Regions from separate parts of the Homo sapiens genome. Here all the other regions are linked to region 3. The links come from fine-mapping of genetic effects on gene expression. A gene starts in region 3. Each other region holds a variant in brackets. All regions are shown on one strand. Distances are from middle to middle.

Evidence for each region.
Region 1: its variant is fine-mapped to the expression of YWHAG in whole blood (INTERVAL, PIP 0.98).
Region 2: its variant is fine-mapped to the expression of YWHAG in whole blood (INTERVAL, PIP above 0.99).
Region 4: its variant is fine-mapped to the expression of YWHAG in caudate (GTEx, PIP 0.98).

What each region holds. Positions count from the first base shown.
Region 1 is chr7:76,410,385-76,415,802 of GRCh38, reverse strand. It overlaps a transcript of ZP3 not described here. Among named protein-coding and RNA genes, the nearest start is that of SSC4D, 3.4 kb to the right of the region's middle. The variant AG/G (reference allele first, on the strand shown) is at 2,197.
Region 2 is chr7:76,399,061-76,404,478 of GRCh38, reverse strand. It overlaps SSC4D (scavenger receptor cysteine rich family member with 4 domains), which reads left to right. Exons shown (of 11, transcript NM_080744.2): 2 at 1-172; 3 at 3,436-3,471; 4 at 3,888-4,193. The coding sequence starts at 40. It also overlaps a transcript of ZP3 not described here. Among named protein-coding and RNA genes, the nearest start is that of SSC4D, 7.9 kb to the left of the region's middle. The variant T/AT (reference allele first, on the strand shown) is at 2,297.
Region 3 is chr7:76,357,059-76,362,058 of GRCh38, reverse strand. YWHAG (tyrosine 3-monooxygenase/tryptophan 5-monooxygenase activation protein gamma) reads left to right here and starts at 3,068. Exons shown (of 2, transcript NM_012479.4): 1 at 3,068-3,337. The coding sequence starts at 3,251. It also overlaps the pseudogene PPIAP81. RefSeq lists silencers at 2,734-3,143, 3,464-3,663, 3,747-3,937 and an enhancer at 2,993-3,639.
Region 4 is chr7:75,601,325-75,606,742 of GRCh38, reverse strand. All of the region lies in intron 1 of HIP1 (huntingtin interacting protein 1), which reads left to right. Among named protein-coding and RNA genes, the nearest start is that of SPDYE5, 110 kb to the right of the region's middle. RefSeq lists an enhancer at 2,869-3,819. The variant G/A (reference allele first, on the strand shown) is at 2,776.

The sequences.
Region 1 (5,418 bases), 54 kb before region 3:
AAAATCTAGGCCGGGTGTGGTGGCTCATGCCTGTAATTGCAGCACTTTGGGAGGCCGAGGCGGGTGGATCACGAGGTCAGGAGATCAAGACCATCCTGGCTAACATGGTGAAACCCCATCTCTACTAAAAATACAAAAATAATTAGCCGGTTGTGGTGGCGGATGCCTGTAGTCCCAGCTACTTGGGAGGCTGAGGCAGGAGAATGGCGTGAACCTGGGAGGCAGAGGTTGCAGTGAGCCGAGACTGTGCCACTGCACTCCAGCCTGGGTGACAAAGCGAGACTCTGTCTCAAAAAAAATAAATAAATAAAAAATAAAATAAAATCTAAAATAAGAATCAAATCCACTCCCGCCACCCCCAGCCATTGGTAACAGTTGTCATAGTTGTCATAGTTAATAGTTTGTGCTGAATCATTCCAGACCTTTTTTTTTTTTTTTGAGACGGAGTCTCACTCTATCGCCAGGCTGAAGTGCAGTGGCGCGATCTCGGCTCACTGAAACCTCCGCTCCCCGGGTTCCAAGGATTCTCCTGCCTCAGCTTCCCAAGTAGCTGGGACTACAGGCATGTGCCACCACACCTGGCTAATTTAGCAGAGACAGGGTTTCACCATGTTGGCCAGGCTGGTCTTGAATTCCTGACCTCACGTGATCCGCCCACCTCGGCCTTCCAAAGTGCTGGGATTACAGGCATGAGCCACCGCGCTGGGCCTCGTTCCAGACCTTTTAATGCCTATATCGTAATTGTAAAATGTGCTTACTAAATGCAATGTGGTATCCTGGATTGGCTCCTGGAACAGAAAAAGGACATTAGTGAGAAAACTGGTAATACTCATTGAAATAAAATCTGTAGTTTGGTTAATATTAATGTGCCAATGTTAATTTCTCAGTTTTGACAAATGTACCATGGCTGCATAAGATTTGGAGTTGTGCTGGTTACTGTGGCACTCATCTTGCATCTGTAGTGCCAGCTACTTGGGAGGCTGAGGCAGAAGAATCACTTGAACTCAGGAGGCGCAGGTGGGGCGGTGAGCCGAGATCACAGCATTGCACTCCAGCCTGGGTGACAGAGCAAGACTCCGTCTCAAAAAAAAAAAAAAAAAAAAAAAGGAGGAGGAGGAGGGGAAGGGGAAGGGGAAAGGGAAGGGGTAGAAGCAGAGTCTGTTCCTGCATGAGAAGGTCTTTTCCTAACTGTCCTAAATGGAATCATCAGCACTTGAGTGTTACTGACCTCCCAGGAGCGGAAGCGTTGAAGAAGCACACATTCCGTAATAGGCAAACTCAGAGAGAATCCATTTACAGACCATAGGCAGATTTTCCCACTCTCCAGTCATGCCAGGCTGCTCCCAAAGGGTCTTTGAGGAGGAAAATCAGTGAACCAACCGCCTAGGCACCTGCAGCTTCTCATGTCAGGAAAAACCACTTGTCAGAATCCATTTATCACACCTTGAGGTGGTGACTTAGAGAGGTACTAAAATTTTTTGCTTTCAAATACAAATATTAATATGGGGCTGGGTGCAGTGGCTCACACCTGTAATCCCAGCACTTTGGGACGCTAAGGCAGGCGGACCGCTTGAGGCCAGGAGTTCAAGACCAGCCTGGGCAACATGGCAAAACCACATCTCTACTAAAAGTACAAAAATTAGCCAGGTGTGGTGGCACACACCTGTAATCCCAGCTACTTGGGAGGCTGAGGCATGAGAATCACTTGAACCCAGGAGGTGGAGGTTGCAGCGAGCTGAGATCACGCCACTGCACTCCAGCCTGGGTGACAGAGGAAGACTCTGTCTCAAAAAAAAAAAAAAAAGAAGAAGAAGGAAAGAAAGAAAAATCAGCATGGGCCAGATGAGGTGGCTCATGCCTATAATCCCAGCACTTTGGGAGGCTGAGGCAGGAGGATTGCTTCAGCCCAAGAGTTTGAAGCCAGCCTGGGCAACATAGTGAGACTTTGTCTCTTCAAAAAATACAATAATTAGCTGGGCATGGTGGCGCACGCCTGTAGTCCCAGCTACTCGGGGAACTGAGGTGGGAGGATTACTTCAACCTCAGAGTTCGCAACTGCAATGAGCTATGATCACGCCACTACACTCCACCCTGGGCAACAGGGAGAACTTGTCTCAAAAAATAAATGAATAAATAAAATTAAAATATTAGTCTGTTTTGTTGTTGTAAATCAATTGAGGCTTTTTTTTAAAAAAA[AG/G]TTTTATTTTGAAATCATTATAGATTCACAGGAAGTGGTGGCTGGGCATGGTGGCTCAAGCCTGTAATCCCAGCACTTTGGGAAGCCAAGGTGGGAGGATTGCTTGAGCTGAAGAGTTTGAGACTAGCCTGGCCAACATGGCAAAACCCTGACTCTACTAAAAAAAAATACAGAAATTAGCAAGTTGTGGTGGCATGCGCCTGTAGTCCCAGCTACGCAGGAAGCTGAGAGGCTGAGGCGGAAGGATCGCTTGAGCCCAAGAGGTTGAGGCTGCAGTAAGTTGTGATCACAGCATTTCACTCCATACTGGGCAACAAAGCAAGACCCTGTCTCAAAAAAAGAAGAGGCCAGGCACAGCGGCTCACACCTGTAATCCCAGCACTTTGGGAGGCCGAGTTGGGGAGGCCATGAGGTCAGGAGTTCAAGACCAGCCTGGCCAACATGATGAAACCCCGTCTCTACTAAAAATAGAACAATTAGCTGGGCGCAGTGGCACGCGCCTGTAGTCCCAGCTACTTGGGAGGCTGAAGGAGGAGAATCGTTTGAACCCAGGAGGCACAGGTTGCAGTGAACCGAGATCACATCATTGCACTCCAGCCTGGGCAACAGAGAAAGACTCCGTCTCAAAAAAAAAAAAAAAGAAGAAGAAGAAGAAGACAAAGAAGAAAGAAAAGAAAAGAAAGGAATGTATAGGGATGTGTGGTTACCCTTCACCCTAGCTTCCTCAATGTTTACATCTTTTTTTTTTTTCTTTCTGAGACGGAGTTTTGCTCTTGTTGCCCAGGCTGGAGTGCAATGGCGCGATCTCAGCTCACTGCAACTTCCGCCTCCCGGGTTCAAGCGATTCTCCTGCGTCAGCCTCCCGAGTAGCTGGGATTACAGGCATGCGCCACCACCCCTGGCTAATTTTGTATTTTTAGTAGAGATGGGGTTTCTCCATGTTGGTCAGGCTGGTCTCAAACTCCCGACCTCAGGTGATCTGCCTGCCTCGACCTCCCAAAGTGCTGGGATTATAGGCGTGAGCCACTGCGCCCAGCAATGTTTACATCTTCCATAAAATTATAATACCAAAACCAAGAACATGACATGATACAAGGTGTGTGTATAGTTCTGTTATTTTATCATATACAATTAAGATACAAAACTATTTCATCATCATAAATACCCCTTTGTACTACCTCTTTGTAATCACACCCACTCTTGCCCTCCACAATCCTTAAACCTAAACATTACTAATCTGTTTTTCACCTGTGCAATTTCATCATTTTGAAGATGTTTTATAAACGGAATCATACAATGTGTGAGCTTTAAGACTAGCTTTTTTTACTCATTATAATGCCCTTGGGATCCATCCAAATTGTTGCATACATCAACAGTTATTCCTTTTTTATCTTTTTCTTTTCTTTTTTTTTTTTTTTGAGACAGAGTCTCACTCTGTCCCCCAGGCTGGAGTGCAGTGACGCAAGCACAGCTCACTGCAGCCTCAACTTCTTGGGCTCAAGTGATCCTCCCACCTCAGCCTCTCGTGTAGCTGGGTCCACAAGAATCACCATGCCTGGCTAATTATTTTATTTTTGTAGAGTTGGAGTCTCACTGTGTTTCCCAGGATGGTCTCAAATTCCTGGGCTCAAGTGATCCTCCTGCCACAGCCTCCTGGGTAGCTGAGACTACAGGCACACGCCACCTCACCCAGCTAAAGGAAATTTTGAATGCTTCCTGTTTTTGGCTATTACAAATAAAACTGCTATGAGCATTCACATACTGGTTTTTTTTGTGAAGATGTAAGTTTTCATTTCTCTTGGATAAATGCCCAGGAGTACAATTGCTAGTTCATATGGTGAATGTACATTTAGATTTTTAAGACACTGTCAGACTATATTTCAGAGTATCTGGACCATTTTACATTCCCATCAGCAATGTGTGAGGAACCCAGTTTCTCCATATCCTCACTAGCATTTGATATCACCAACTATTTTTTTTTCAACCATTCTCATAGGTGGGTGGCAATAACTCATCATCGTTCTTTTTTTTTCCCCTAAAACAGGGTCTCTCTCTGTCACCCAGGCTGGAGTGCAGTGGCACAATCATAGCTCACTGCAGGCTCAACCTCCCAGGCTCAAGTCATCCTCCCACCTCAGCCTTGCAAGTAACTGACTACAGCCCAGTGCGCACCATCATGCCCGGCTATGTTTCTAATTTTTTATAGAGATGGGGTCTCCCTATGTTGCCCAGGCTGGTCTTGAGCTCTTGGTCTCAAGCGATCCTCCTGCCTTTGCTTCCGGAAGTGTTGGGATTACAGGCATGAGCCACTACTCCTGGCCACTGTTTGCTTTAATGGGAAAGACGAGAGCTTGCTTAGGAACCGAAAAATCTGATTGGGAAGGAGCAGCTGAACATGGAAGACAGATAGATGTGCAGATGGAGGGAAAGAGGTCCCTGAGATGACGGAAGGAATGGAATCTGGACTTCAGGGAAGGGGCTTCCCCAGGCCAGGGGAGGAGGGAGGGAGGAAGGACAGGTGCGGGCAGCAGGGGCGTGGAGATTTTGCAGCATGGTGATGGCAGCCTTCCATCAAGTATTTTCTTTTCTTTTTTTTTTTTTTTTTTCTTTTGAGATGGAGTCTTGCTCTGTTGCCCAGGCTGGAGTGCAGTGGTGCGATCTCAGCTCACTGCAACCTCCACCTCCCGGGTTCAGGCGATTCTCCCACCTCAGCCTCTCGAGTAGCTGGGATTACAGGCACCCGCCACCACACCTGACTAATTTTTGTATTTTTAGTAGAGACGGGGTTTCACCATGTCAGCCAGGCTGGTCTCGAACTCCTGACCTCAAGTGATCTGCCCACCTCAGCCTCCCAAAGTGCTGGGATTACAGGTATGAGCCACCTCGCCTGGTACATCTAGTACTTTCTTTTTCCAAGAAATAGGAAACAGCATCATGACCAGGAGTCAGGAAATTAAGTCCTGCCGGGCCCACACTCATGCCACCTGTTTTCCTCCCTTGGCCTCAGTCTTCCCAGCCTCACCATAAAAAGCTGGGACTGGTCCCCAATTTGTTTGATCCTCAGGAGCTTCTCAACATTTTTTTTTTTTGGCCAGTGCAGTGGCTCATGCCTGTAATCCCAACACTTTGGAAGGCTGAGGCAGGAGAATCCCTTGAACTCGGGGAGACGGACGTTGCTGTGAGCTGAGATCACACCATTGCACTCCAGCCTGGGCAACAAG
Region 2 (5,418 bases), 42 kb before region 3:
GCCTTGATGGGAGCATCTGAAACACCCTTCACCATCTAGATGCACAAGGAAGCAGAGATGCTAATTGGTCCCCAGCTGGATGAGAAGCGCTGGGGGTGGAGGTTGGGAGATGGGAGTGCTGCCCCTCCCTTCCTCCCCCAAGCCCTGTCTTTCCTTCTCCTCCTGCCACTGGGTGAGTCCTCCCCTGTTAGCCCTTGCCACTTCCTCTTTCTGAATCTCAGTTGTCCCAGCTGTAACTTTATAGTAGGAGGAGGGTTGTGAATGAGCTCGTTCCTGTTGTTCTTTCCAATGCTGACCTTTGCCCAGAGTTGACAAAAGAGCTAAGAGTCTGAGTTTGGGGAATGAAGGGCTCAGTACTGGAGGTGACAGGTAAACGCACCCATGGAATGGGCAGTTAGGGGACACTGGGCACAGGGAAGGACAGAAAGAGGGTGTGCTCACCAATGGCTGTTGGAAAGACAGCTGGTAAAAGAGATGAAATCAAATGACCTAGGGACTATCCAAACATAAGAAGAAGGCCGGGCTCGGTGACTCACACCTGCAATCCCAGTACTTTGGGAGGCCAAGGCGGAAAGATCACCTGAGATCAGGAGTTTGAGACCAGCCTGGCCAACATGGTGAAACCCGCGTCCCTACTAAAAATACAAAAATTAACCAGGCTTGGCAGCACGCACCTGTAATCCCAGCTACTCAGGAGGCTGAGGCAGGAGAATCACTTGAACCTGGGAAGTGGAGGTTGCAGTGAGCCAAGATCACGCCACTGCACTCCAGCCTGGGTGACAGAGCGAGACTCTGTCTCAAAAAGAAATAAAGATAAATAAATAAATAAGAATAAGTTGAATCAGCCAGGCACGGTGGCTGTCGCCTGTAATCCCAGCACTTTGGGAGGCTGAGGAGGGCGGATCATGAGGTCAGGAGTTCAGGACCAGCCCGGCCAACATGGTGAAACCCCGTCTCTACTAAAAATACAAAAAATAGCTGGGCATGGTGGCGGGCGCCTGTAATCCCAGCTACTCAGGAGGCTGAGGCAGGAGAATTGTTTGAACCCAGGAGGTGGAGGTTGCAGTGAGCTGAGATTGCGCCATTGCACTCCAGCCTGAGTGACAGGGCGAGACTCTGTCTCAAAAAAAAGAAGTGGAGTCTCAGTTTCTTCATCAGTAAAATGCGTACACAAGTACAGGCTGCAGGGGGTGGTTATAAGGAAAGTGTCAGAACTGTCATACTCGGACCACAAGTGAGGAATTATTTTCCGGCTTTCCATTTTGCCTGGTAGGCAAATTTCACTTCCCTGTTTCCTCTCCCACCTCCACTCTCAAGCATCGTGCTCAGAACTGCATGATGAAGAAGAGTGTGGCTGTCTGGGTAGTCTCTCAGCTCTACCCTTGATTTGCTACGTGGCCCTGAGTAAGTTGTCTAATCTCACTAACCCTGAAGTTGCCCTGTCTGTAAAATCCTGCCTAACTTATAAATTATCCTAATGATTAACTGAGTTCGCCTAAAGAAACCAATGAAGGCCGGGTGCAGTGGCTCACGCCTGTAATCCCAGCACTCTGGGAGGCTGAGGCGGATGGATCACCTGAGGTCGGGAGTTTGAGACCAGCCTGACCAACATGCAGAAACCCCATCTCTACTAAAAATACAAAATTAGCCAGGCATGGTGGTATGCCTGTAATCCCAGCTACTTGGGAGGTTGAGGCAGGAGAATCACTTGAACCCAGGAGGGGGAGGTTGCGGTGAGCAAAGATGGCACCATTGCACTCTAGCCTGGGCAACAAGAGCGAAATTCCGTCTCAAGAAAAACAAAAAAGAAAAAAAGAAAGCAATGAGGACATACATGATGGCTGAAGCAGAAAGACTCAAGGCCAGGCAAGGTGGCTCACACCTGTAATTCTAGCACTTTGGGAGGCTGAGACGGGAGGATCACTTGAGGCCAAGAGTTCGAGACCAGCCTGGGCAACAAAGTGAGACCCCTGTCTCTACAAAAAATTAAAAAATTAGGCCAGGAGCGGTGGCTCATGCCTGTAATCCTAGCACTTTGGGAGGCTGAGGCAGGCGGATCACTTGAGGTTAAGGGTTCAAGACTAGCCTGGCCAACATGGTGAGACCCCATTTCTACCTAAAAAATATAAAAATTAGCTGGGTGTGGCGGTGTGCGCCTGCAGTCCCAATTACTCGGGAGGCTGAGGTGGGAGAATCACTTGAACCCAGGAGGCAGAGGCTGCAGTGAGATGAGATCATGCCACTGTGCTCCAGCCTGAATGGAGTAAGACTCTGTCTCAAAAAAAAAAAAAAAAAA[T/AT]AGCTGGGCAGGGTGGCAGGAGCTTGTCCCAGCTATTCTGGAGGCTGAGGCGGGAGGATGGATTGAACTCCGGTATTGGAGGGTGCAGTGAGCTATGATCATGTCACTGCACTCCAGGCTGGGTGACAGACTGAGACACTGTCTTAAAAAGAAGAAGAAGAAGAAGAATGAAGTAGAAGGACTCATCTAGGTAAATCTTTAGGGAGGGAAATATGATGAATCCCAAAGCCAATTTACACATTTAAGGTGGAGCTACTGAACATCTGCTGAGTACCAGGTTCTGAGCGGAGAGTCTGGGGACACAGAGTTGAGACAGGCATGGCCACATTACCAGAGAAGGCCCTGAAAGAGGCCTGGGTATGTGGTGTCCAGGAATTCAGAGGAAACAGAGAGCACTTCTAGCTGAGGGCTCCAGGATGGCTTCCCAGAGGAAGGGGCTCCAAGCTGGGAATTGAAAAAAGCTCTTGCCTAGGTGTGTTGGCTCACACCTATAATCCCAGCACTTTAGCAGGCCAAAGTGGGTGGATTACCTGAGGTCAGGAGTTCAAGACCAGCCTGGCCAACATGGCGAAACCCCATCTCTACTAAAAATACAAAAATTAGCTGGACTTGGTGGTGTGCACCTGTAATCCCAGCTACTCGGGAGGCTGAGGCAGAAGAATCGCTTGAACCCCAGAGGAAGAGGCTGCAGTGAGCTGAGATCGTGCCATTGCACTCCAGCCTGGGTGACAAGAGTGAGACTTTGTCTCAAAAAAAGAAAAGAAAAGAAAAAAGGCGAGGCTGGTCAGAATGGTTAGAAGATTCTAGAAGGTTTTGTAGTGAAAGCTCAGGAGCTGAGACTCCTGTAGGTAACAGGGGTCATTATGGGATTTAGCATTAGTTTGAGATGTGCAGATCTACAGATTTACACCCGCAGATCTCTCTAGGTTGGCCCAGGGACCACTAGGAGAGGGGTGAGGCAGGGAAGCCAATCAGGACAGTCAGAGAAAGAGACAATGGGGCTTTGGCAAAGCAGGGGTACTGAAGTCCAAGAAGATGGGGGTAATGTTGAGGACTGTGGGAGTTGGGGGGTGTGTTCCTGGGACCAGGGAGCCATGGTGTGGGCAGAGGGGCCAATGCTCTTCCTCACTCTGTTTCAGCCAGCGCCCTACAGCCCACTCCACTGCCCTTTCAAGGTAGGTGCCCCACCCCGCCCTTCCTCACCCTCACCTGTCCGCCAGGTACTCCAGCCTCAGACAGGGAACCACAGGAAGTGATGACTAACCAGCCCCCCTTGACTCTAGATGCCCCCATCTCAGGGGAGCTGTAGTCTCCCCATTTTCCAGAAGGGATTGATCCCAAGGTTCCCATGGCTTCATGGCAAAGCGGGTAACCTGGCTGGGTCCCGTAGTGCACGTCTGTGATCCTAGCGCTTTGGGAGGCCAAGGCAGGAGGATCACTTGAGCCCAGGAGTTTGAGACCAGCCTTGGCAACATAGTGAGACCCCGTCTCTACCAAAAAAAATAATAATAAAATAAAAGGACATCCTGGAGTGGGCATGCTGGAGGTTGGACTCAGTGACCCCCTGGTGCCAGCTCCACCCTCTTCACAGAGCTGAGGCTGGTGGGGGGCCCCAGCCGCTGCCGGGGCCGCCTGGAAGTCATGCACGGTGGCTCCTGGGGCAGCGTCTGTGATGACGACTGGGACGTGGTGGACGCCAACGTAGTGTGTCGCCAGCTGGGCTGTGGCCTGGCACTGCCCGTGCCACGGCCCCTTGCCTTTGGCCAAGGCCGAGGCCCCATCCTGCTGGACAACGTGGAGTGCCGCGGGCAGGAAGCTGCGCTGAGCGAGTGCGGCAGCCGCGGCTGGGGCGTCCACAATTGCTTTCACTACGAGGATGTGGCTGTCCTGTGTGATGGTGAGTGGAGCCCTGGGACCTGGAGGGACAGACAGACTGTGGCAGGCAGCAGGGCTGTAGGCTAGATAAATGAAGGGACTTCCCACAGGTAAGGCTGTTCCATGCAGATCAGGCCAGAGGCTACAATGCCTGGTGCCAGGGAAGAACCCCAGCCTGGGTCCCAGGGATTCTTCTGGGTCATTGCCTGACCCTGACCTTGGACCAAAAGAAAACCAGCACTACTGCTTCTATGTAAGGCTTTGATTGTCCCAGCAGAGCCCCTCTCCCTTTAAAAAAAATTTTTTTAGAGATTTTGGAGATGAGGTCTCACTGTTTGGTCCCGACCAGAGTGCAGTGGTGTGATCATAGCCCACTGCAGCCTCAAACTCCTGGGCTCAAGGGATTCTCCCGCCTCAGTAGCTGGAACTACAGGTCCAAGTCACCCCACTGGTTCCCCTCTCCTAGTTTTAAAACCAGACAATCAGCCGGGCATGGTGGTTTATGCCAGTAACTCCAGCACTTTGGGAGGCCAAGGTGGCAAGATTGCTTGAGCCCAGGAGTTTGAGACCATCTTGGGAACATAGTACCTTATCTCTACGAAAAATCAGAAAAATTAGCAAGGTGTTGGGGGCGGTCCCAGCTACTTGGGAGGCAGAGGAGGGAGGATCGCTGGAGTCTGGGGGGGTCAAGGCTGCAGTGAGCCGTGATTGTGACACTGCACTCCAGCCTGGGTGACAGAGCAAGATCCTGTCTCGAAAAACAAAGAAAAAAACGACTATTGGGGTCACACTGGCCATGCGCTCCACGTGGCATAGAGCTGCAGCGGAAACTGAGAGCAGTGCTTCTAGTTTTCAAGAAAATCAGGGGGTCTCATGAAAACACAGATTGAGGCCCAATCCCAGAGTTTCTGATTCTGCAGGTCTGGATGGGGCCTGAGAATCTGCATCGCTAACAGTTCCCAAGGGAGGTGAACTGCTTTAAGAACTGTGCTTCAGGCTGGGCACGGTGGCTCATGCCTGTAATTCCAGCACTTTGGGAAGCCGAGGCAGGTGTATCACCTGAGGTCAGGAGTTCAAGACCAGCCTGACCAACATGGTGAAACCCCATCTCTACTAAAAATACAAAAAATTAGCTGGGCATGGTGGCAGGCACCTGTAATCCCAGCTACTCAGGAGGCTGAGGCAGGCAAATTGCTTTAACCAGGGAGGCGGAGGTTGCAGCAAGCTGAGATTGCACCATTGCACTC
Region 3 (5,000 bases):
TAGCGCTCCATGGCCTCCACAATATTCATGCTCGCTTTCACCTTGCCAAAGACCTCCATGCTGGCCATCTAACCACTTAGTCTTGGCAGTGCAGATGAAAAACTGGGAAGCATTTGTGTTGGGTCCAACATCTGCCATGGGCAAGATGCCAGGATCTGTATGCTTCAGGATGAGGTTCTCTTCATCGAATTTCTCCCCATAGATGGACTTGCCACCAGTGCCATTATGGTGTGTAAAGTTACCACCCTGACACATAATCCCTGGAGTAATTCTGTGAAAGTAGGAACCCTTGCCGGGCGTAATGGCTCACACCTGTAATCCCAGCACTTTGGGAGGCTGAGGCGGATGGATCATGAGGTCAGGAGTTCGAGACCAGCCTAACATGGTGAAACACCGTCTCTACTAAAAATACAAAAATTAGCTGGGCGTGGTGGTGCGCGCCTGTAATCCCAGCTACTTAGAAGGCTGAGGCAGGAGAATCGCTTGAACCCGGGAGGCAGAGGTTGCAGTGAGCCAAGACTGCACCACTGCACTCCAGCCTGGGCTACAGAGCGAGACTCTGTCTCAAAAAAAAAAAAAGAAAAAGAAAAGAAAAAAAAAGAGAGAGTAGGAACCCTTATAACCAAATCCTTTCTCTCCAGTGCTCAGAGAACGAAAGTTTTCTGCTGTCTTTACAACACTGTCTGCTAACAGCTCCGATATGTTAACATGGCTTTACAGTTTAGATGAGAGGTCACTTCTTTTTTTTTTTTTTTTTTTGAGACGGAGTCTTTTTCTGTCTCCCAGGCTGGAGTGCACTGGCACAATCTCGGCTCACTGCAAGCTCCGGAGAGGTCACTTGGCTTCTTGGTTTCCATGCCCCTAACCTTGAAGGAGACGCAGCCCAAGGGCTCAATAGTAATGTCAAAGAACACGGTGGGATTGACCATGGCCAGTAGTAGAGTACTCCTGGCAGCAGCAGAGTCTGCAAAGCTCACTTTTTTTTTGTTTTGTTTTTTGATATGGAGTTTCGCTCTTGTTGCCCAGGCTGAAGTGCAATGAAACGATCTCGGCTCACTGCAACCTCCACCTCCCAGGTTCAAGCAATTCTCCTGCCTCAGCCTCCCAAGTAGCTGGGATTACAGGTGCCCACCACCACACCCAGCTAATTTTTGTATTTTTAGTTGAGATGGGGTTTTGCTACGTTAGCCAGGCTGGTCTCGAACTCCTGACCTCAGATGATCCACCCGCTTCGGCCTCCCAAAGTGTTGGGATTACAGGTGTGAGTCACCGTGCCAGGCCAAAGCTCACTTCTTTTTTTTTTTCGAGACGGAGTCTCGCTCTGTCACCCATGCTGGAGTGCAGTAGAGGGATCTCAGCTCACTGCAACCTCCGACTCCCGGGTTCAAGTGATTCTCCTGCCTCAGCCTCCCGAGTAGCTGGGATAACAGGTGGGCACCACCACGCCCAGCTAGTTCTTTTGTATTTTTTGTAGAGACAGGGTTTCACCATGTTGGCCAGGATGGTCTCGATCTCCTGACCTTGTCATCCGCCCGCCTCGGTCTCCCAAAGTGCTGGGATTACAGGTGTGAGTCACCGTGCCCAGCCTTTAAAAAACTTTTTATTTTATTATTTGTTTTTGAAACGGAGTCTTGCTCTGTCGCCAGACTGGAGTGCAGTGGCGCAATCTCAGCTCACTGCAACCTCAAAACTCACTCCTTACTGACTTCTAGCATACTGTACATATCTCACCTATTTTCTTGGGCAGGGATTTTTGTCTGTTTTGTTCACTACTGTACCTCGTGGCTTAGAATAGGGCTTGGAACACAGTAGCTTCTCATAGATAATTGTTGAATACATAAAGTAAATAAAATGTGCAGTCAAAACTATCAGGCCTGCAGGCATGGTGGCTCACATCTGTAATCCCAGCACCTTGGGAGGCCGAGGCGTGAGGATCGCTTGAGCCCAGGAGTTCGAGACCAGCATGGGCAACAAAGCTAGACCCCCGTCTCTACAAAAAAGCAAAACAAAGCAAAAAAACCCATGCTATCTGCAAGCTATGTGGAATAATATGAACGAGAATATATCAGCGTGACCTCAGTAGGTATGTATGTCTTAGGAGGGGAGAGAAGGGCTGGACAACCAAGCCCTAGACGCAGCCCAGTTAGATGTGGAGTAGGCTCCTGGTAGCTGAACTCAATCTTTAGCACTCCACCCTGGAGAGGAAGAAGGGGTTCTCCAGGGTCAGCCAGCAGACAGCTGCATCCTTTCTGGAAATCAACCACTGTGGCCAGCCGGTATTTGTCGTTCGTCCATGTTTTCACCTATTCAGGCCCAAGAGCCTCAAGGTGGGGTGGGGGGTTTAATGGAAGCTCGTAGGGGGTGGAGGTGACAGTCCCCAGGGTCTGGCCCCTTAATTCGGCCATCCCGCGGGCAGGCACCACACTGAGAGTCTGGATCTACAATGGACGCGCCTCCTGTCCTTCCCCCACCACGACCTGCTACGTGATCTCGGAAACAGGGTCTAGGACTGAGGCCCCTGCCCCCTCCTCTCGTAATTTCCCGGAGAATATGGGGCGGGGCGGTGAATCAGCACTCGCAGGGACTGATGCAGCCCTGATCCCCGCCAGGGGTCCCCAGCGGCCTCGGGATTCGAAGCACCCCCCCCCGTCCTCCTGCGCCTGCGCGCTATGTCCGCTGGGAGTTGTAGTCTTGACCGCCCCTTTGTCCTTGGTCTCCTCAGCGCCTCAGTGCACTGCAGGTTACACTACAACTCCCAGGGGCCCATGCGTCCGAGGGCTGGCGGGGCGGGAGGCTCAAGGGGGAGGCGTAAGGGGGCGACTGGAGAAGCTGGGGTGAGGGAACTGGGGAGTGAAGTGAAAAAAGGGGAGAGTGGGGGCGCAGTGGGAAAGGACGGGGTGCCCGGAAGACGCGCAGTGAGCCCAGCTGGGGAGCGGGGAGTTCTAGCCGCGGCCGGGCTCGGGCGGGGCATGGGCGGGGCTTGCGGACGGGTGGGCGGGGCCTGCCTTCGTCATGCGGCGTGGGCGGGGCCGCAGGGGGTTGTCCGTCAGTGGCACGCACAGCAGCCGCAGCCGCCTCGCGCCCGGTCCCGCGGTCGCAGCTCCAGCCGCCTCCTCCGCGCAGCCGCCGCCTCAGCTGCTCGCTCTGTGGGTCGGTCCTCTCCGGCACTTGGGCTCCAGTCGCGCCCTCCAAGCCCTTCAGGCCGCCCCAGTGTCCTCCTCCTTCTCCGGCCAGACCCAGCCCCGCGAAGATGGTGGACCGCGAGCAACTGGTGCAGAAAGCCCGGCTGGCCGAGCAGGCGGAGCGCTACGACGACATGGCCGCGGCCATGAAGAACGTGAGTGTCTCCTCCCCTCCCCCGCCGCTCCCTGCCCCTCCGAAGACGCGGTCCTTGGCGTGGAAGGCCCGGGGCTTCGTCGCCCTGTCGCGATGGCGGGTTGACCGCCCCGTCTCGCTCACTGAGGGGGGCTGGGGAGGGTCCCGAGAGGCGACGGGAACCCGGGCTGTGACGCGGCCTCTTTTCGGAGTCCCCGTGGCCCCGCGGCGCTGCCATTCAGGCCCGGCGCGGGCGCGGGCCGGGGCGAGGTCCCGCGGGGCTGGACTTGGGAGCGGGGTCTCCGGCCCCCGCGGCTCTAGGGGTGCAGGGGACCCGAGCGGGGAGGCGTGCGCATCCTTTGTGCCCCACTTCCCCCCTCCTCCTAGCCTGGGCGTGGGGGCGGGGGACCGCATGGATGCGGTTCCTCTTTCTCTCCCTGGTGTCTGGGCGGCGCCTTTCCCATTCACTCAGCAGGTCTCCCGGTTTTCCACCTCCCCAGCCCCCCCAGAATCTTCCCCACTGTCTGTCCCGACACATCCCTGAGAATCTTCCCAGAAACATTGTATAGGGTCTCTTGAAAACCTGAGCTCCGTGGTGCAAAATCGAAACCACCTTGCTCACGTTTTTCTTAACAAAAGGCTCTTCTTTCTCCATTCGCCCAAAGCAAGTCCTCCGGCTTTTAGGAAGGGAGAACGTTTGTCTCGCTAGCGTTTTCATTGATCATTCTCAACATGTCATCTCCATTTTATTCCCTAATGTTTTTGTATTGAAAAGGGTAGGTATTGCCTGTAAAATTAAAAGGTGGTGAATGTAGCTGACTGGTTCGATTCGTGTGACATATGCCGTTTCTTTTTTGAATACAGGCACGCGTCTGTTGAAATTCCTATAAGTTGGGGGAAAAAATATTCTGTCTGATCTGATAGTGCAAACAAAGCCGTGGTGAGAGGCAGTATCAAGTCATTCCAGAAGATTCTGCATTTGTCATATTGCAGAGAGCCTAGACTGGGTGGAGGCTGGGAGGAGTTATTTTAAAGGGGAAAAAGTCTTTTTAAAAATTTTTGGTTGTTAGATGCATCTGAGGCTTTTTTTTGTTTAAGCGAGTACATCTTCATGCTGATGAAAAGAGAATACCGATCGCCAGTTGTCGCATTTTGTCTGGGTTGCAGATTCATCCCTGTATTGCACCATTTTGTCAGTAACACCACATTTATCTAATGGGCTGTCAACCAGTTTGATATTAGAGGAGGGGGAAGTATTGAGCATTATGAAATGAAAGGTAGAAAATTAATCTAATGATTTCGGGCCCCCACTATCTTAATATTTAATTTCCTGCCTTATGTAACAAAGATTTTCAAATTCATCTCCATTGTGAAGTGGATGCTGGAGTGTACCTTGCGTGTTACATCTTTTAAATGAAGCATTATTGATATTACAGATCAATTCTTGAATAAATTTACTGGTTCTCAAAAGAGGACAATGCTGATACCTTTATATTTAAAGCAGCTATGTTAACAAAGAAAGGTTTTTGTCTTATTGAAGAGAACTGATTCTGAAATTCGGAATACTGCTGTGGCCACAGTTGCTGTCTTACAAGGTTTTAATGCTTAAATGATGTAAGTTGCACTTCTAATAGGTATCAGTATTGGAAATATCTTCAGTTCGTGTTATTTAGACTCTTATAATT
Region 4 (5,418 bases), 760 kb after region 3:
CTTCCTCATTCTTTTAAAAATGGCTATTTCTTACCCAAGAGCCGCCTGGCCTCATTGTTCATTGTTCCTTCGGGTCCTTTTCTTACAGTGTCTCCCCAGCTTGTGGCCCTTGCTGCTATCCTCCCCTCATCTAGGTCCAGAGCCTCTGCATCATCTTTTTTTTTTTTGAGACGGAGTCTCACTCTGTCGCCCAGGCAGGAGTACAATGGCGGGATCTCGGCTCACTGCAACCTGCACCTCCCGTGTTCAAGCAATTCTGCCTCAGCCTCCCAAGTAGCTGGGATTATAGGCATGAGCCACCACACTCAGCTAATTTTTGTATTTTAGTAGAGATGGGGTTTCACCATGTTGGCTAGGCTGGTCTTGAACTCCTGGTCTCAGGTGATCTGCCCCCCTCGGCCTCCTAAAGTCTCTGCATCATCTTGGAGGCACCATGGATGCATCCTTCTGCTGTCTCCCTGTAACCCGGAGCTCCTATCTGCCAGTCCTACTGAAGCTCGTTTTACAGCTCACATTATATTGGGTCATTTCCATTCTCACATCTTTCATTTTGATTCCATTTTTCCTGTACTTTTATGCTATTAAATAGCTTCTGGCTGGGCATGGTGTCTCACACCTATAAGCCCAGCACTTTAGGAGGTTGAAGCAATAGGATTGCTTGAGGCCAGGAGTTCAAGACCAGCCTGGGCAACATAATGAGACCCCGTCTCTATTTAAAAAAACCAACTAGCCAGGCATAGTGGTATGTGCCTGTGGTCCCAGCTACTCAGGAAGCTGAGGTGGGAGGATTGCCTGAACCCAGGAGGTTGAGGCTATAGTAAGCTATGATTGCACCACTGCACTCCAGCCTGGGTGACAGAGCAAGACCCTGTCTCCAAAAAATAATAATAATTGATTAAATAAAAATACAGCCAGGCGCGGTAGCTCACGCCTCTAATCCCAACACTGGGAGGCCAAGGCAGGGGGATCACCTCAGGACAGGAGTTTGAGAACAGCCTGGCCAACATGGCAAAACCCTGTCTCTACTAAAAATACAAAAATTAGCCAGGCGTGGTAATGTGCAACTATTATAATCCCAGCTACTTCGGAGGCTGAGACAGGAGAATCACTCGAACCCAGGAGGTGGAGGTTGCAGTGAGCCAAGATTGCGCCATTGCACTTCAGCCTGGGCGACAGGGCAAGACTCCGTCTCAAAACAACAACAACAACAAAAATAGCTTCCTCCCTGAATTCTCACCTCCAGGCTCCATCCAGCTCTACCCCAGCTGCCGCCACTGCTGGCCCATTCCCCTCCACCTGCTGTCATCTCTTCTTGCCACTCAGAAGCCCACTGGCCTCCCACACGCAGCCTCACCTGCCTCCTGGCTTCTCCTCCATCCCCCCCGGCCCTCAGGCTGCATGCTCCATGCCCTTCCACTTTGGTGCCTTTACTTGTGGCACTTCCTCTGCCCAGAAGGCCTGTCATCTGTGTCCAGAACCCCAGACCCAGTCCCCTGCAGGCCCGAACCCCTCCACAGTACAGAGCGGGTGCTGGTTCAGGGCTTGGAACCAAAGAGCATGACCTTGGGTGAGTTTCTCCACCTTTCTGAACAACAGCCCTCCAGACCCCAGAGTTCCTATGAGGCATATATGACAGAAGTGGGTAATGGCTGGGACAGTAGCTGGGCCGAGTTATCCCTCCTTTCCCTTTAAGAAGTCTTCCTTGAGCAGTGTCTCAGTTTAAAAGGTTTCTCTCTCCTTTCAACACTACAGCACAGAACTTTCCTGATTCTCAGCTATACACACACACTCAGTGGATCCATAGTCACAAACTCACGGTATATTATTTTACGTGGCTTATGGGAATTTTAAAGATTTTAAAAATTTGTTACTATAAGATTTTTGCGTGTGTGTGTGAGCAAGGTTCATAATGACCACAAGTTTGAGCAATTGGTCAAGCAGTAGGAACAGTTATTTTTAGGGTAAATCTAAATCTCACCCATCATGGGTCCTCCCTAGAGGCCCTGAAGCAGTTTCTACCATTTTTCTTCCCTCCCTCCCTCCCTTCCTTCCTTCCTTCCTTCTTCCTTCTTTTCTAAGACAAGGTCTTGCTCTGTCATTCAGACGAGCATAGTGATGCAATCTCAGCTCACTGCAGCCTCCAATGCCTGGATCGCTCAAGTAATCCTCCCACCTCAGTCTCCAGAGTAGCTGGGAATACAGGCGCATGCCACCATACCCAGCTAATATTTTGTAGGGATGAGGTCTCACTATGTTGCCCAGGCTGGTCTTGAACTCCTGTCCTGAAGTGATCTTCCCACCTGAGTCTCCTAAGGTACTGGGATTACAGGCATGAGCCACCACATCCAGCCCCATTTCTAGCATTTCCAACTACCTGGTGTGGTCCTCTTCCTCACGGCCCATATTCCTTACAGGCCTTCCCAAACCCCCTGGAACTTAACCATGTCCAGGTCAGCATCTTACAGATTTGGGTTTCTTGTCCTTCTATGTGTTTATATGCCTTGTAAGTCCTTTCTGACTGCAGACAACCTTGATGGGCTCCGGAAGTATGGAGACTTTGCCCAGGGGTCTGTCTGCAGCCAGAATTTTGCCATTGTCATGGTGCCCCAGCCTATGTCATGGTGCCCCTGGCCTATGGTGCCAGGGGAAGAACATAGTTTAAACGGCTGTAATGCACTTGAGGAAATGTACAGGGAAGACAGTGCTTGGGACAGTTCTGTCACTGAGGACTAAGGTCCAGGGAAGGACGTGCTAAGAGGAAGCTGTAAGCACTGC[G/A]TCTCCATAGGAGAGAAGTACTGCTTCATGGAGAGGTTTAGGGGAATGAACTTTTCACTTCTTACTTGCATCTTTTTTTTTTTCCTTTTTTTTGAGACAGGGTTTTTGCTCTGTTGCCCAGGCTGGAATGCAGTGGGGGCGATCACGGCTCACTGCAACCTCTGCCTGCTGGGCTTAAGCGATCCTCCCACCTCAACCTCCCTAGTAGCTGGGACTACAGTTGTGCACCACCACACCTGGCTAATTTTTGTATTTTTTGTAGAGACAGGGTTTCACCATGTTGTCCGGGCTGATCTCAAAATCCTGGCCTTAAGCGATCCTCCCACCTCAGCTTCCCAAAGTGCTGGCCAGAGATTCCTTCCTGACTGCTCTTACGCTCACCCTGCAGAGCCAACGACTGTGCTCAGGAGAGCCCCAAATCATGTGCTGTAGGGGAAGCATCGCATGTCATTCTTGTCCTCCCAGAGGACCCCATCTGATGGGGAAAGGACCCTGTAATTAGTTTCCTGGGGCTGTCAACAAATTCCCACTAATTGGGTGGCTGCATTCTCTCACCGTCTTGCAAGGTAGGGCAATACTGTCTCTGAAAGCTCTAGGAAAGGCTCCATTTTTTTTTTTTTTTTTGAGAGTCTCGCTCTGTCACCCAGGCTGGAGTGCAGTGGCGTGATTACTGCTTACTGCACTCTCAACCTCCTGGGCTTAAGCAATCCACCTGCCTCAACCTCCCTAATAGCTAGGACTACAGGCACACACCACCACACCCAGCTAATTTTTGTATTTTTTAGTAGAGACACGGTTTCGCTGTGTTGGCCAGGCTGGTCTTGAACTCCTGACCTCAGGTGATCCTCCCGCCTCTGCCTCTCAAAGTGCTGGGATGACAGGTGTGAGTCACTGCGCCCGGCCGGGAAGGATTCTTTCTAGCTTCTCGTGGCCGCTGGCTGTCCTTGGCATTCCTTGGCTTGTAGACTCATCACTCATCTCTGTCTCATTTCATGCAGCATCCTCCCTGTGTGTCTCTGGATCCCTACATCTTCTTCGAGGATCACCAGTCATATTACATTCCATAATATGACCCTACTCCAGTGTGACCTCATCTTAACTAATTACATCTGCAAATGCCCTATTTGTAAATAAGATCATATTCATAGGTACGGGGTGGGGGGGGTTGGGCGTGATTATATATTTTTGTGGGGCGGGGGTATACAATTCAACTTACAACAGAGGTTATACTGTTTAAAAATCAAGTCTGGTCAGGAGAAGAAAATATATAAGGAGATATGAATTTAAGAACATATTCATTAGCTGGGCGTGGTGGCAGGCGCCTGTAGTCCCAGCTACTCGGGAGGCTGAGGTGAGAGAATCGCTTGAACTCAGGAGGCAGAGGTTGCAGTGAGCCGAGGTCACGCCACTGCACTCCAGCCTGGTGACAGAGCGAGACTCCGTCTCAAAAAAAAAAAAAAAAAAAAAAAAAAAGAGCATATCTGAGAATTTAGAAAAACAGCAGCTGGATGTGGCAGTGTGCAGCTATAGTCCCAGCTACTTGAGAGGCTGAGGTAGGAGGATCACTGGAATCCAAGTGTTCAAGTCCCGCCAGCCTGGGCAACATAGCAAGACAGCGAAACCCTATCTCTTTTGAAAAAAAAAAAAAAAAAAAAAAAAAAAAAGCTGGCCAGGTGCTGTGGCTCACGCCTGTAATCCCAGCACTTTGTGAGGCCGAGGCGGGTGGATCACTTGAGGTCAGGAGTTCGAGACCAGGATGGTCAACATAGCGAAACCCTGTCTCTACTAAAAATATAAAAATTAGCCAGGCATGGTGGCATGCGCCTGTAGTCCCAGCTACTTGGGAGGCTGAGGCAGGAGAATCGCTTGAACCCAGGAGGCGGAGTTTGCAGTGAGCTGAGATCATGCCACTGCACTCCAGCCTGGGCAACAGAGTGAGACTCTGTCTAAACAGAAAAAAAAAAAAAAAGTTTTTATTTCCAAAGGATAGATTCCTAGGAGTGAGATTACTGGGTCAAAGTTTTTTTTTTTAACCTTTCATTATAGAAAAGTTCAAACGTATACAAATATGAAGACTAGTCCAAGAAGCCCTGGTATAGCCCCAGCATCAACAAGGAACTTGTGGCCAAACATATATCCTATGGACAAGGGGTCAGCATTTTCTGCAAAGAGCCAGTTAGTAAATATTTTAGGCTTTGCAGGCCGCATGGTCTCCATCGCAACCATTCAACTCTGCCTTTGTAATGCAGAAGCAGCCTCAGCTGATATTAAATGAATACGTAAATGCATGAGAGTGGGTGAATTCTAATAAGATTTCTTTTCTTTCTTTCTTTCTTTTTCTTTTTTTTTTTGTTGTTGTTGTTGAGAGTTTTGTTGTCGCTGAGAGCTCTCTCAGCCAGGCTGGAGTGCAATTGTGGAATCTCGGCTCACTGCAACCTCTGCCTCCCAGGTTCAAGCAATTCTCCTGCCTCAGCCTCCCGAGTAGCAAGTAGCTGGGATTACAGGCGCCCGTCACCACGCCCAGCTAATTTTTGTATTTTTAGTAGAGATGGGGTTTCACCATGTTGGCCAGGCTGGTCTCAAACTCCTGACCTCAGGTGATCCACCCACCTTGGCCTCCCAAAGTGCTGGGATTACAGGCAT